2 separate regions of the Homo sapiens genome follow, and region 1 is linked to region 2. The links come from fine-mapping of genetic effects on gene expression. Tissue or cell type: cerebellar hemisphere. Region 2 holds a variant in brackets; the other region holds the start of a gene. All regions are shown on one strand. Distances are from middle to middle.

Region 1 (8,099 bases), 44 kb after region 2:
TTCACTTTCTCTGTCTCGGGTTCTTTACTGTAAATCCGGTAAAATGAATGAATCGTGCCTGTCTCCCAGGGCTGTCAGCACAGTTCAACAGTAATAAGCACAAGACACATGCTAGCTATCAGCCGGGTGGTCCCTGTCCTGCCTCTGCCTGCCTCAGGAGGCCCTGTCCCATCAACCTTTGAAACTCTCACCTCCCTCTGAGCTCATGATGACGAGGACTCTTTCCTCTGTCTCTGCGCCCACAGTATGTGAGGGAATGAATGAACGAATGTAGGCATGGCCTGCATTTATTTGCTCAAGCTGTGAAGAAGTGCTTTGGCTGAGAAAGTAAAACCCAGATTAGGAGTACTCTCTGTTAATGTTTCTCTGGAGTAAAAAATCCCTGCAATGGAGGAAGGCTCTGAAACAATAAATCCTCCATAACTCCTGTCTCACTTCTTCTCACTCTGCAGCAGGATTTGTCAAGATGATCCGTGATTCACAGAGGGAGCCGGGAGAGACCCCTTGACGGGTCCCCGAGCGCCTCTCAGCCCCATCTCCTCCTCATCCATCATCTGCGATGATTCTTAAAGAACGAACACATCAAGCTTGCTGTCACAATGTTTTAAAATGTTGCAGTAATTAAAAACCACCGGTAATTTCTTTTCACACAGATGAGGCTGTCTTTTCAAACCAGGGCAATGGAAACACCCCACACGCTGCACACCTGAGCCCGCGCACGCCTCCCACTCTGTCCGCTGGCACACTCTGCTGCCCGACCCTCTCACCTTCTCTTGCACACTTTGGTACCTCGTCATTCTCCTGGTCCCATCTAAAAGACGTCCAATCTAACAGACCCAGGATGCGAGGCACACTCTGCCTATTCGGCATCACAGAGTAATCACAGTGACTTGCAGTTACCCATCTCTCAATAGTTTCTTTTTAAAAAGTTCATCTCTTCTCTAAATGGGCTTGATCTTGACCTGCACAGATCATCTGGAGTTGAGTGGACACAGGTTCAGTGAAAACGGATCAAAGGGGCTGTTGCTGGGCTCAGTCAATCAACTGCAGAACGTCTTATGGCTGCAGGCTAAGAAGAGGAAACAATTCAACGACCAAACAAAGGTTAATCTAGTAACTGCGGCAAGGCCCAGGTAATTTCCATAAATATGTGGAAACAGCAACCACTTCAATAGTTTGGCCTGGCACCAATATGAGGAGGAGCTTGGAAAACCGGACGTGGACCCCCTTTCAGTGCCCTGAGATCCATCGAGCAGCTGAATGGAGGTCGGTGCTGGGGGCCAGGGGGCACCCACACAGACCAGTGAGCAGCTGCCCCTTCTGGAATCTCACAGACTTCTAACACCGAGGGGTCCCCGGGTGCCAGCTGTGCTGCAAGTGGACAGCCAGCCTCTGCTCAGACATGTCTGGAGATGGCGAGCTCCTCCCTTCCAGAGGGTTCCCAGAAAGGGAATAGGAGAAGCTCTTGGCCATCATTCTCATTACTCTCCACATCCTGGCAGAAACTTTATTCCTCGAGCACTTTGTTCTTTCTGCCTCTGTAGAATGAGACTCAGCCATCAACAGCAGCTGCTCACATCCTTTGTTCCCAAGAACGTCGTTCCCTCCATTCGAGTGTGCAGGGGACTGTGCATGGGGGTGCAGGTGTGATTGGAATGTCAGGGTTTCCCCGCCACCGCTGGTTTTGTTTTTTCCTCTATATCCAGCCAATGAGCACCTCTTGTGCACATATAGATCCTCAGAGAGAAAGAAAGCCTGATGCCTCTTCTTCATGAGGCTGTAAGTCTTTGAGCAATGAGGCTATCCAACTCGACTCCAAGAAACGGATGCGCACAGAGGTCCTGCTTGTATAGTGTCAGGCTGATCTTACGCAAGCCCCATTTGCCCTAAGTGGAAAATGAACCTTTGTAAACTGCCACCCATGAACCAATGTGTTGGGAGGTGTTCAACCAACTTGGCCATCTGTTGAATTTGAGTTATATCCACGAAGCTCTGTTGTGGAATGATGCTGGTGGTGGGGACAGAGTAGCTGCCGTTGGCTGAGGTTGCCACGCGACTAAACAGCTTATTGTAGTGGATGGAGAACCAGTCCGGCGGCAGAATGTCACTCCTCCCACCCCCGGGCCTGTTTTTGGCCAACCTAAAAGAACTGCGTGTAACTAGGATCCTTTTTTTTGCACGCACCAGGAGAACTTGCTATTTAGGGAATCCTGATGATGAATTGTTTTTATAAAGTCAGACCAGAGACTCTTCCTTGTCTTTCTCTCCCCTCACCCATTTTTATTTTCTGAAATTGGTTTTTGCTTAAAATCAGGGCATGCTTTTGCACATAAATAATGAGTTTGGTGGTGACCATCTGGCATTGCGATCCAAATGAAATCTATTCAGTGTAGTCACCTCTTTGCTGGCTGTGTGACCTTGGCCAAGTCACTTCACCCCTTTGTTACCATCTGTAAAGCGAGGGCAATGCAGGCATCTACTGTACATATTGTGGGTAATATTCAGACCTCTTTCAAATAAAATGGGCTCCATTTTAAATAAGGTTTCGTCATCACGGGCATCAGGAACACATCTCTCTCCACAGCATGGGAAAGAAACCAGCATGTCAAGAGGCCAAGAGCTACAGAGTCTGAGCTGGTTCCACAGAGGTTTCCAGCTGCTCAGATCTATAGCTGCAGGATTCTGCAGAGTTTGAGTAAAAAGTCAGCATGGGGAGAAGTGGAAGGGCATTGAGCTGGTTGGTAAAGACAGGGCTTGGCAGTGATGTTGCTTTTAAAATTCTTGGCACACACTTGCAACTCTCAAATAAAAAACAAGTTGCTCAGTTGTCATAATGGAGTTTTTGACTAAAAGTGATGATTTAAAGGATTCCTGTGTCAACTCCTAGGACATCGATTGGCTGGCTGGTTTGTCTCTTCCTCCTGGCTCTCTCTCTTTCTGCCTTTCTCTCTCTCTCCTTATAAGGAATTTCTATCCGTGTTTACCATCCTTCTTTCTAGGTGGGGCTGGTTGGGAAGGATGTAGAAGTTCTAGAAGAAGGGGATTAGGAGCAATGGCTTGGGAATCAGGCCGATCCGCCTCAGGTCTGCTGCTGTTGAGCCTAAAGTTTTCACCTGCAAAGTCAGGGTAATGACAGTATCCATATCTCATCGGATCGCTGAGAAGACTAAATGAGGCAATGCTCGCACTGTGTTTAGCCTTGTGTCTAGCACGCATTAAGCACATAATGAGTGATGTTTATCATGAGACAAGTGCCTGGTGGGAGCAGGTACTACTCGCAGTTAATTAATGAATCAAACACAGCCCCTGGTCCCTTGGGAAATGAAGCAGGTGATGTTTAATTATCCTGCTTGGAAGAGAACAAGATACTCACAGGGGGCAGGGACCAGCTTTTCCCATTAGTTAAGAGGAAGGAGGACTAGCCTGGTTTGCTATAAGAAAACTCTCTATGGTCAAAGTGACCTGATCAGCCTGGAGAAACTCAGCAGGGGCCCTTGCCAGGGGCCCCAGCAGGGGAGGCAGCAGGCTGGACATTTGGAGCATGTCTGTATGGTGTGAACACTCACTCTCTTGTCCATGGGCAAGTTGCTCACCCATCTGTGCTCAGCCCATCTGTAAAAGGGAAATGGACTCCAAGCACTTTACTCTTCTGTTTGTCCTCAGTATTCTCATGTCTAGAATGAAGCAAGGTTATGGTTACTACCAGGATGGAGTTTTTTTATAGAGAACTTAAAGGTTGATCATAATGAAAGCACACATTTAAGGCCAGGCGTGGCAGCTCACACCTGTAATCCCAACACTTTGGGAGGCCGAGGCGGGCAGATCACTTGAGGTCAGGAGTTCGAGACCAGCCTGGCCAACATGACAAAACTCCGTCTCTACTAAAAATACAAAAAGAACAACCTGGGTGTCGTGACGCATGCCTGTAGTCCCAGCTACTCGGGAGGCTGAGGCAGGAGAATCACTTGAACCCAGGAAGTGGAGGTTGCAGTGAGCTGAGATCACGCCACTGCACTCCAGCCCGGGTGACAGAGTGATATGGCTCAAAAAAAAAAAAAAAAAAAAAAAAAAAGCACACATTTATATGGTGCTTTCCCACCAGGCACAGCTCTGAGTGCTGTACATGTTCTAACACAAAAGCCTTCCTAACATTCTTAACACCAGATTTCTCTCCGTTCAGGGTCCCTGCGACCGCAGGCTCAGCTCGAGGACCTGCAGAAACAGGGAAATGCCTCCTGGGGCACTCCTCTCAGGAGTAGGAGCCTTGGGTCAGAAAGGTCTCCCTCGTATCCAGCCCAAATCTGCCTTGCTTTAACGTCTAGCCATTGGTCTTAGCTCTGTGCTTTGGGGTCAGGGAGAAGGGATCTGCTCCCCTTCCCCGTGGATGTGGGAGAGATCCAAAGGCAGCCGCCATGCCCCAAACAGCCACTCACCAGGAGCAGCGTAAGCCTTGCTCCTCCTCTCAGTTGCTCCGGGGTTGCTAACTCAGAGAAGGGAAATAAATAGTAACAAAGGCGAGCATTTATTAAGTACTTATGGTGTGCCGGGCCTCGAAACATCATCGGATTTCATTCTCAGACCAACCCTAAAGGTGCTGGTGTTAACTCCCCATTTTAAAGATAAGAACCAGCCGCTCAACCAGGATAAGGGACTTGCCCTACTGCGGATAAGCAGCAGCTTCGGCCTGACTCCAGATCCCAACGTTGTGGAAGCCGGAACGCCCCGAGAACAGGCGGAGAGCGGAGGGAGCACCGCAGGGCGCCGGCCAGGGTGGGGGCACCCCCAGGCCTCCAGGAGGTCGCGCGTCCCGGGCGAGAGCGGACGAGCCGTCAGCACCAGGGACAGCTCCCCAGGCCGCTCCCGGCATCCCCCGACGACTGCGCGCGCGGGCCGGTGACGCGCGCTCCCCGCCAGGCTCGGGCGCGCGCCCTCCCCGCCAGCGCGCGCCCTGCGCTCGGGACCAGGCTGGAGCCGCGCGTGCAGCTCGCAGGGAGCCAGCCGGGGCGTCCGGAGTCGCGGCCGCAGCGCGGAGCTGGCAGGGGTGCCCGCCTGGGCACGCAGTCGCCTCCCCGGGGGCCTCCCGGGCTTCTCAGCGCCCGCCTCGCCCGCCCAGCCACACCAGGCGCCACCGCCGTGGCCTGGGCATGAGCGGCCGCCGCTAGCTGCGCCCTGCCCGGGTCGGACGCCCGCCCGCCCCGTCACGTGCGCCCAAGTCCTCGCGGCCGGGGCAGCGCGGTTCCCATGCTTCAAGGTAAGGGCCGAGCGGGCCGCGGGTCACGGGGTGTGGGGCAGAAGACGCAGGCTGGAAAGCTCCAGCTAGGTGCCCACTCGTCCAGAGTGCCCACTGCAGCCTGCCCCGGCTGCCTCGCACCAGGTCCCCTGACCCAGCTGGCGTCACCCATCCCCTGGCTTCCACCCTCAAAGCGCATCCCCGAGGAGGAGACTGAGACCCAGGTGGGCACGAGGGCCTAAGGGAGAGGTGGGGGACCCACTTTAGGAAGGGGGGCTTCATTTCCCTCGGAACAGTGGCCTGGGGGCAGGGGGCAGTGGGGAGGGAAAGTTTCCCAGAAGAGCCCTCTGGAAACCTGGCCGCCTTCTCTCCCTGCCAGGAGCTAAGACTTTTTCATTTGCTGAGCTTTGCCTTCTTCCAGAGTCGGTGCTGCATTTTCATCCCATCCCATTCACCCAACACCCACGAGAAAGGGGCATTGGCCCCATTTCACAGATGCAGAAACTGAGTCTCCGAGAGGTTTGGTCTCTTGCCCACGATCACAGAGTGGGGAAGTGGTGGAGATGGCCTCAAACACGCCGGCCTCTGTCACCACCACCTCACACCTTTGTCTGTTAGGAATCTCTGCTTCATTGACAGGTGGGGGGTTGCCTAACTGACACTAGGTTTCCTCAGCCAGAAAAGAAAAGACTCTACACACCAAAAACCCAAGAGATATTCAACATGGGTCCTCAGGGCTCCACTGTCTCACCCCACTCGTGTCCTGTCCTCCCGCAGCCACGGACTGCCTGGGCACAAGTGGTCCTGCCAGTGTGTGTCCCGTAGCAACCCCGATGGCTCTGAGACAAGAAACTCAAGGGTCAAGTTCATGGAACCTTCTGCAGGGTAAGGGGAGTATCCTTGAGGCCTGAGCCCCAGCATTCGTCCTAGCACCTTCCCCAGTAAGCAGGAGCTCAGGAGAGCCAGCGGGCCACCCTGCCAGCCTTCTCCCTTGCATTTCCCTCAGCCCCTGCCAACTCACGCTCTTCAGGGCTTCTGGGGAGAGCAGTAATTACCAACCCCCAAAAAGTTCAGGGTTGCTGGGAAAGCACCTTTGCCCATCTTCCCACCTTCTCCCTCTTATAGAATTGAGAGTGAAGTGGAGGTGACCAGGGCTCTACCCACCTGAGCAGGTGAGAACCAGCACTTCCTGGGCTGGGCAAGGGCTGGTTTTAACTCTTGGTGCACTGACTGCAAGCTTCCTAAACAGCTTAGGTGCTGGCAGCTTGTGAAAAAATCTCACCCTAAGGCTCGGGGGCCCAGGAAATGTGGGGTTTTGTTCATTCGGTCTTGCACTTGCTGGCAGTTTGTTGAGCATCTGCACGATGCTATGAAAAGACCCACAGGGCAGTCTTTGTATCCTGGATCCAGCTGGGTTTTGGTTTCCCTATCAGCTGAGTTTCCAATGGGGCCGGCTTGTCTAGACTCAGCCGGAAAGCTTGGAAATGGCTCCCGAAGGATCTGGGGGTCTGGGAAGGATGCACAGGCTCTCCCAGCCTCAGTGCCCCACTTGCATGGGGAGGGAGTGGGAGCTCCAGGGTGCATTGCTGGACTCTCAGGACGTGCTGACACCACTCAGAATCCTGGCACACAGAGGTGTTGCAGCTTCTCCACCCTCGCCTCTCCAGCAGGTAGGGCAAGGAGCCCCACAGAGCTCCTCCTACCCTTGAGGCTGGAGTCCCCAACACACGTCTGTCATGCCAGTACCATCAGCAAACATGAGCAAGGGCACCTGGGGAAAGGTGGGCACAGATGGAGAAGTCGGGACTCGAGTTCTGTCCACCTTTTTGGGTGACCTTGGGCAAGTCACTTTCCTCTCTAGACCTCAGTCTCCCATGTACAAAATTGTGGGGTGGATCATTTCATGTCCCCCCTCTGAGCCATTACAGCTCTGTTCATCTAAGCCCCGGATGGAGTAGGAAAGCTGGGAGGAGTGCAGTTCCTCCCTTTTTGCCATGGTATTGAGGGAGTGCAGAGCAGTTTTGAAATCTTCGGACTGACCTGAGTCCAAGCCCCCAGTCCGTGCCAACCCTACTCCCTACTCACATGATCACCCCCGTTTTGTATATTTAGGGGCTGGCTCTATATTCCTGACTTTTCTGGTGCTGGTTCTGGGTGAGGCTTCACAGCATGGAGACCCACTCCTGCAGTGAGACCTCTGGCTCCTGCCACGTGGGCCTGCCTCTGCAGCCTCATGGCAGCGGGCTCCAGCGAGGAATAATTACAGCACTCGGGAGGGGAGAGATGTATTACATCTCAGTCAATTACCTCTGACTCTAAACTCTCGGGGCAGGAGGGGAGGCAGAGCAGCAGCCGAGCCCTTGTTCTGTCCTCCACTCCGCTCCTGGCCCTACCGCCACTTCCCTCTTCAGAGTAGCAAGTCCTGATCTGTGTGTTGGTAAAATGGCAATTTGTGTGGCAGAGAGAGTGGTTTCCAGGCCAGACCACGGGTGCATCATTCCGCATCCCCATCTGCAAAAATGAGGGTGCTCCTGCCTTCCCTGCTGGCACATGGGACACCGGGGCAACCGTGAGCCTGGCCAAAAGGCTTTTGGATGCCAAGAGCATGTGGTCCTGGGGACCACCCTACAGAGGCCAGGGTGGGGCTGGGGGGCTTCTCTGCCAGCTGCTGCCACACTTGGCACTGGTACTTCTTGCAGTGTCTCAGTCTTTCTGGATCTGCTCCAGAGGGGATTTGATGAGTTCCGAGGCCTCAGTGTTTGCCAGCTCCCTCCCTCCGTTGCTGAATCCTCCCGCAGGCCTTGGCCCAATCCCCGCTTGCTGGGGGTTGCTGGAGAGGGGAAGGAATCCTGTTGCCCCTGGGGTGAAG
Region 2 (8,099 bases):
TTGGATTCTTGCCCTCAAACTCAGCTTGTCTCAAACTGAACTCACTCTGCTCCCCCAAGTTGCTTTTTGGGGGTCCTCACCTCAGTAAATGCCCCCTCCCCTGGCTTCCCATTCACCTAGTCAGGAACCTGGGAGTCATCCAGGCCTCTCCCCGCCTCTGTCCCCACCCAATTTAATCATTCACCCTAGTGTAGCAACCAGAGCCCCTGGCTGCAGGCTCTGATATTTTTTAGCTATCTCTTCCCCTCAAGGCTACACCAAATGCCAAGTTTTCAACCCCATCAGACGTCCACCCCACACTATTCTCAGCAAGCCAGTATTAGCCCTTCCTTCCCTTGGTGCTGAGGATGTTTGACTTAGCAGTTAATCTGGCTCCCAAATGCTTCTGGGAAGGATCTTCCTGGATCTCCAGGCTGCGGCACCTTACGCGACTAACTCTGCATAGGCCCTGGCCTCCTGACCACAGCCCAGTGGGCCCAGGATAAATTAGATGCCTTCGAATACCAGTGGGTCTCAGATAAGGAGGAAAAAACCAGCTCGCAGCTTCAGACTGGTTCGTTTCTTACCTTCCCCTCCCCTGGTGCTTTATTTTTAGGCAGGTTAGTGCGCCCTGCTCACACCACCTGCATTTGGCATTCGGTACAGTGTGGAGGTGTCACCAGAGAGGGTGCCTGCCCTCCCTTCCTTGCCTCGTTATTGGTTCTCTCTCTCTCCCTCTCTCTCTCTCTCTCTCTCCTCTCTCTCTCCTCTCTCCCTCTCCCTCTCTCCCTCTCCCTCTCTCCTCTCTCTCCTCTCTCTCCTCTCTCTCCTCTCTCTCCTCTCTCCTCTCTCTCTGCTGGCTGGCTGGCTGTCTAGGCCTATGTGTCACCACCTGGCACTTGCTCTCATTGTCTTGTGCGAGTGCTTTTGCCAGCAGTTTGGAGTGCAGACCCATCACCCCTCACTGGGGCCCCCCATGAGGCCTGCCTGACTGCATGCCCCACCCGGGCCCATGGCAGCGCACCTGGAAGCGGACGGCTGAGGACTTGTTGCAGTGCATGGAGATGGGCGCGAAGCTGTACAGGGCCTTCAGTACGTCGCGGTTGAAGGAGTTCCAGGGAACAGAGGTGAACTGCTGAGACACGGACGCCTGAGGGCAGGTGCAGACATCCTCGTTGTTGAACCTGGTGGGGACAAGGAACAGCCAGGCTGGGGAGCAGCTGACGGGCAGGGAGCCCAGTGGGCACCAGCAACACCTCCCTGCAACTCGAGTCCTGTCCCTGGGGCAACCGTCCTGCCACCTCCTCCCCAGCCCCGCTGCCTCCGCCAGGCCACCCCAGATGCTGCCTTCACCGGCAACGGCCTCACCTCTCCTGTCACCTTGGCGGGTGGGTAATGGCTGCTGCAGGCTGGGTTGAGGAGGCTCTGAAGCCAAATCCAGACTCAGCAGGAAACGAGTGAGGGGAGGGGTGAGTGATGCCGCCACAGGTCTCTGCTCCTAGAACTTAGCCTGGACTCCTCCAATCTGCCCAGCCGCCTAACAGGCCCGAGGTTCTGTGTCGGGGTTCCCTGGGGGCAGGGAGCTTGTGCAGGGAGCCCTCACCTGTTGATGAGGTGGAAGTACTTCTGCAGGAAGCCGGCGTCCACAGCGCTCTTGCAGAGCTCCAGCTGCGTCTGGGGGTAGTAGTGCACGTAGTTGACACACATCTCCTCCAGGATCCCGAAGCCCCCCTGCAAGTTGGAGGAGACCCGTCAGCCCCGGGCCATGCCACGCAGACGCTGCCATCCAGCAGCTTTCGCCGCACCCACGTGTACACTGCGTCCACTCGTCTGTTCACTGCACCGTGCCAGGCATGCTCTGGGGAACCGAGTCCCTGCCCTCAAGGAATTGCCACCATTGGCAGGAGAGACAGGCAGTGAGTGAGTGAGTCAACCAGGAAATTCGTATCAGGTACTGATGATGCTGTGAGGAAAAATGAAACGGGACAAGCGGATGGGGTGTTATTGTGCCCATTTTATGGGTACAGAAACTGAGTCTCAGAGCAGGCAAGGGGATGCCCCGTGGTGGCCACAGCATCGGTGGCACAGCCTGAGTGCACCCAGCGTCCCGGCCATTGTCTGGAAGCTGTCCCCATGACCTCCAGCGAGAGCCTGGAGCCAAGGACTGCAAGGGAGGCCCTTTCCACTGCAGCCCCGCACCGTCCACCAGTCATTTCTCCAACGTGGCTCTGAGGGGAGCAGGGACTCTATAAGACAGGACCGTGACTAGAGGCCGCGACAACCTCCAGCCTCTCACGGCAACCCTACGGCCTGCCATCGCATGGGAGGGGCAGGGCAGGCACCCTCTGAGTCCCCACTGCCAGCTTTAAGCCCCTCGCTGGGTTGCTGCTCTTGGAGCTGGTGACCGTGGAGCCTCAGCCATAGGAGGAAGAACAGCAGCAGCTTGGAGGAGCTGGGGCTGGAGAGAGCAAAGCTCCCCCGGCAGCAGCTCAGATCCCAGCAGGTCAGGGGCCGGGACATGACGCCCTGGCCACCCTTGCCCCTCCAGGCTCCCCGCTGTTTGTGAAGCTGCTGTGGGCCTGGGGATTTCATCTGGCTGGTGGGGAAGAAAGGCAATCTTTACTCTATGGCAGAACAAAGGGACTGGGCAAAGCTTGGCGTGGCACTTACACCAGCTGCCGCCCCCTCCTCCCGTGCAGACAAAGAGCATGGGACAGTTCTGCCCAGAGACGAAACCTGGCACCTGTTGGCCAGGACGCGTTTTTGCCAGCATTGTTCTCTGGGCCGGATTCCTCCTTTCCCAGCTTTTCTCATCCATCCCGCCCCCGTCAGATCGGGACGATTGCCCTCCTGTGTGAGTTCCTGTCCCTCCCCACCCTCTGCCACCACAGACATCAAAAGGGAACTGAGTCCGACCCTGTGTAGAATCTGTTCTCCTCTTTCACCTGGGGAAGGAAATCGAATTTCAAAGGCCACTGTGTCTTGGATCAGCAGGCGAGGGCTTGTCAGAGTGTGAGAAGCTCAGGTCCACCTGGGGAGCTGCCCTCCCCTTTGATCCCACCTGGTGCTGTGATGTGGCCACTGCCAAGAGGACGACATGGGCCAGGGAAGCCACAGAACTGCCCACGGGGAC[G/A]CTGGCACCGAGGGCCTCAACCTGCAGAACGGCCATCTGAGATGTCCGCGGTGCTCACCAGGCCTGGCAGCCCCGAACGCCCTGGGACGTGGCGTCAGTTCCGCCGCCGTGAAGCCAGATTGGGCAGGGAATATGCAGTCTCCTCGCTGGATGCCCGGCAAGACCCTCCCATCCCTGGCCCCGGGGCCGCGCCTGCAGAATGGGGCTGATGGTGGGGACTTGCCTGGGGTGCTCCACCTGCAGAGCCCTCTGTTTGCGAGCCCACTCAGTCACTGCACAGGTGCTTAGCCGAGAGGCGGCACAGTCGGGGTTGGCACCTGCACCCATACCAGCCCTGCCTCCTGTTCGCTGTGTGGCCTGAGTGGCTGGACCTCACTGTATCTCCTGGTGGGATTGCTCAGAGGTCTCAGCAAGGCTTGGTGTGGTTAGGATGAGTTATTAGAGCAGTGCTGAGCTGTGGCAAGCACCCGACATCAGCCACTGCTGTGATATACTGAGCACCTCCTCTAGAGAGAATAAAGGACTGACAAAGCTGTCCTGTCTCCACCCTGAGTTTGTGATCAGGAACCTAGGACACTTGTCACCTGAAATCCAAGGGAGACAGGAAGGGTGGGGTAACAGCTGTGAGGCACAAGACCCTGGGTCAAATCCCAGCTCAGCCATCTATCAGCTGTGTGACTTTGGTCAAGTGCCTGCCCTCTCTGAGCCTTTATGTCTCACCTGTGAAAATACAAACACTGGCTGGGTGCTATGGCTCATGCCTGTAATCCCAGCATGAGGGATTACATGAGGAGTTTGAGACCAGCCTGGCCAACATGGTGAAAATCCATCTCTACTAAAAATACAAAAATTAGCCAGGCGTGGTGGTGGGTGCCTGTAGTCCCAGCTATTCAGGAGGCTGAGGCAGGAGAATCGGTTGAACTCGGGAGGTGGAGGTTGCAGCAAGCTGAGAACACACAGCCTGGGTGACAGAGCGAGACTCCGTCTCAAAAAAAAATAAAATATAAAATAAAATAAAATAAACCACTGGCAGTCTGGGCTCAGTAAACATCAGGTGAATCCACATTGGATTAAAACACAAAGAATAGGGCTGTGACATGGACCTGAGTTCCTGGCGCTGAGGGATGTCAGGGTAGCTGTAACCCAGGTCTGCTCCACTTGAGCCACACAATTCACAGGATAATTATTGGAGACCACCATGGTTACCGAAGCAGCTGGCACGGATCCACTGGCAAGGTGGCCCATTTGCCAGGACAGCCCTGGCTTGTGCCTGGGACCCAGGTAATTGTGAACAGCATCCCCTTTGGCTCCCGGAAGCAGCCCCGCTGCGTGATGCATCACGTGGCTGCCCGTGTCCTGGTGCTGCCTGCATACCCAGCCTTGAAAATAGATCTCTCCAGTGCAGATTCTCCTTGAACTGTCTGCAGTCCAGCCAAAATGCATCCTCAGCTGACGCTCATCCTGCCTGACCCCCACCCATGTCTCCACCCTCTCCTCCTCTCCTTTCCATCCTGAGAATGTTCTTGGTCCTCTGGGCCTTCCCGCACGCAGCCCCTGCACAGAGCCTTCCTTCACCTCCTCCCCTCTCCCCTGGGCTCCATGTGACAGCCACATTTCTGACAAGGCCCTCCCAGGTCCCCGCACCTCTGCCTCCTCAACCTGGTTTTTAAAGTTTTGTTTTGTAATTTTGCTTGTTGTTAGCAGCAGGTGCTCCAGGCCTGTCTCCCTGGTGCACCTTGAGCTCCACGGGGCAAAGGTCAACCTCTTGTCCTACAGCTTCTCCCCACACCAGCCCCGGGTGCTGAGAAGCTTCTTGGTGTGAGTGCTTCTCAACCTTGAGCAGGGGTCAACATCCGCTGGGAGCTTGTTAAAACATGGATTGCCCGATGCCACCGCCTGTGTCTCTGACTCAGTGGGCCTGGGGTGGCACCCAGGAGGTTGCATTCATCCCAAGCTCCCTGGTGATGCTGCCACTGTGGTTCAGGGAGCTGAGAACGACTGGCTTATTGAGGGGACGAGCCCATGCCCTAAGTGAGGAGTCAAGACCTGTCATCCTTCCTCAGATGGCTCAGGCTGAACACTCGCCCTGGGCAGGTGCAGGGGGAAGCGGGGGTGACTTACCACTGTGGCCAGCTCCCGGTCTTCTGTGTTGTACGTGCAGGAGGTGATGAGCACATCTCCCTGAGGAAAAGCCAATGTGACCATCAGCACCTGCCACCTGGCGTTGGCAGGTGCTGGAGGCCTCGCCCCCATAGGACCACGCCACTGTGCATGCCACGGCACCTCTGGGGTACAGTCCCTGTCGTCCACTACAAGGAGCCCAGCAGATTCATGTGCGAAGGTCACAGGCTGAGTGTTCCCGAGCAAGTTATAAACCATCAGCTCCTGTGACCCAGTGGGTCACAACAGGGCCAGGGCCCAGGCCAGTGGGGGTGCAGCTGGTGGGCCATGACACATCTCAAAGGACTTGGGCAAGTCCCCACCGAGGCCTGGGCTTGGCCCTCTGTGGGATCAGGGCTCCACTGCCTGCCTTAGTGCCCTCATCTCCCCCAAACACTCTCGGGTTTGTGGTCGGCCCATCAGACTGAGGACACGCGTCCCCTGGGAGTGTCCTGTCTGCTCCACTCTTTCCAACGTCTCTCCATGAACTCCTGAGTGAGTCTCCCCATGAGGTAGCCCAGCCCAGAGCCACCCACAGGCACCCTCCCCCTGCCCTGGATGGCTCTCCCTCCCCCTATCACTTTCTGTGTCCCTCTCCTTCTGGTGGCACCCCCAGCCCTCTCAGCCACCCCAGCTGGTGGCAGTGAGTGGGACAGCCTTCCCGCTGGGCACTCACCGGATGGACCGACACGACCTTCTTCAACATGCGGATCTCCTGGGGCAGGCAGAGCCGAGGGGTGGGGGAGAGGAGACCTCAGAGAGCTGCAGACCAGACCCCCGGCCACTGTGTCCTCCCTCAGGCCTCCCTGACCTCTGGGGGTGTCCATTTTGCCCCAGCCTCTACAGTGGAAGCCAGAGCCCGCTAAGTGTGGCTTCTGGCCAGGGAGGGCATTAGATTCAAACCAGAAGGTGGTTATCCAAGACCAAGATTGATGTTCCCAGAGGGCCGCCTGGGTCTCCCGAATCCCACCACCATCTGCCATGTGCCAGAGGCCTCCCTACGATCAGACACCAGACACCCAAGTGGGGAGCACAGGCCACATGGGTGGGGGGCGGGTGGGGCTGGCCCAGGAAAAAGAAGCCAGCCTGGAGCCATCCCTATGGTGTCAGGAAACAGTAGACCCAGGAGGTCGTGTGGTGGCAGGGTGTGGGGGCGGGGCAGGGGTGGGGTGCAGGTTCCTACCTGGAAGTGAGGGCTGTAGTGATTGTCCTGGTTCACGATCTCCCACTCCCGGCCGTCCCGGACCAGCACTGTGACCACCTTTCTCCCAGTCAGGTGTGTGTGGAGCTGAGAGGCGAAGATGTGGATCCCGGAGGGAGGCAGTGCCTGTGGGGTCGGGGGGCTGCAGTGTCAGGGCCTGACCCCCGAGGGGACCCTCCCGTCCATGGCCAGGACCCGGTAGGGAGCAGCCACCCTGGGCAGTTTGCTTCCCTGGAACACTTGCATTTTCTAGGTCTTTCTCCCCGGCCAGGTTAGAGCCACCATCAGAAACCTCACGGGGAAGAGCGAGGGGGCCGCAACAGCCCCCAGCTCCCAAAGAAGCAGCCCCTAGTCCCACTCAGGAGCGACTTTCTTTCCGAGTCCTTCATCCTCTCCTGAGCCCCTGAAGCCTGACAGGTTCATCTTCACTCAGTCAACAGGCCTTTAAGGCGAGCCTCCCGTGGACAGGGTGTGGCAAAGCCACCAAGCTGAGCAGCGCGTGGCCTCTGTGCTGAAGAGCTTGCTGTCCAGGGAAAAGCAAGTGGCAGAAGGTGGTACTTGGCAGGTCCCCTACGTGGTGGGCCGAGCAGGACCTTCAGCTGCCCTGCGTTGTGGCTTCCTTTCAGCTTCAAAGCAGCCAAGGCTGCATTCTCCCTGTGCTCAGCATCACCCCGTGCTACAGCTGGGAGCTGTAGCTACAACTGGAAGGTGGTCATCCAGGACCAAGATGGATGTGACCATGGGGTGCTGCAGCTGGACACTCTGAGGCTGCAGGCCGGCCTCACAGAAAAGATGGCAGCCCTCATCTCAAGAGGTCTTATGCCATCACTGGGGCATGAGAGAATCTTCCAGAGAACGAAAGTTTTCTCTAACCTAATGCTAACTTTTTTTAGATAGAAAATGCATTTCCATGGCTGGGCATGGTGGCTCATGCTTGTAATCCCAGCACTTTGGGAGGCTGAGGCACATGGATCATTTGAGGTAAGGAGTTTGAGAATAGTCTGGCCAACATGGTAAAACCCCGCCTCTACTAAAAATACAAAAATTGGCCGGGCATGGTGGCACGTGCCTGTAATCCCAGCTACTCAGGAGGCTGAGACAGGAGAATCACTTGAACCCGGGAGGCAGAGGTTGCAGTGAGCCAAGATTGTGCCATTGCACTGCAGCCTGGGCAACAGGAGCGAAACTCCATCAAAAAAAAAAAAAAAGAAAGGAAGGAAGAAAGAAAAGAGAAGGAAGGAAGGAAGGAAAGAAAGAAAGGAAAGAAAAGAAAGAAAAAGAAAAAGAAAGAAAAAGAAAAGAAAGGAAAGAAAAGAAGGAAAGAAGGAAAGAAAAGAACACGTCTTTCCTGAAATCGAGCATTTTCTTTGTGAGTCAGTTGTCCTTTTGCCCACCCGCTGCCAGGCTCTGCCCAGTTTGTTCATGCAGTCAGCAGGTCCCAGAGCTCAAGGTCCCGACAGCCCCATCCCTGAAGGTCCCAGATGGCCGAGCTTTTTAGGACTCACTTTTGCTCCTTCCCTCTCGCTCCCAAGCAGCGGCCGCCCTGACCTTGCCGTCGCCTATAGCTTTGTGTCCCTTGCAATGGCTTGAGAGGCCACTGTGTGCCAGGCCTGGGAGCCCAAAGGG

Evidence for each region. PIP is the estimated chance that this variant, and not a neighbour inherited with it, causes the effect.
Region 1: FAM163B starts here. The variant in region 2 is fine-mapped to the expression of FAM163B in cerebellar hemisphere (GTEx, PIP above 0.99). The same link has a PIP of 0.9 or more in cerebellum.

What each region holds. Positions count from the first base shown.
Region 1 is chr9:133,606,229-133,614,327 of GRCh38, reverse strand. FAM163B (family with sequence similarity 163 member B) reads left to right here and starts at 4,939. Exons shown (of 3, transcript NM_001080515.3): 1 at 4,939-5,251.
Region 2 is chr9:133,650,134-133,658,232 of GRCh38, reverse strand. DBH (dopamine beta-hydroxylase) reads right to left here. Exons shown (of 12, transcript NM_000787.4): 7 at 6,456-6,599; 8 at 5,949-5,987; 9 at 5,234-5,293; 10 at 1,583-1,710; 11 at 1,004-1,163. It overlaps DBH-AS1 (DBH antisense RNA 1), which reads left to right and starts at 825. Exons shown (of 2, transcript NR_102735.1): 1 at 825-1,106; 2 at 1,696-3,646. RefSeq lists an enhancer at 2,951-3,750. The variant G/A (reference allele first, on the strand shown) is at 3,113.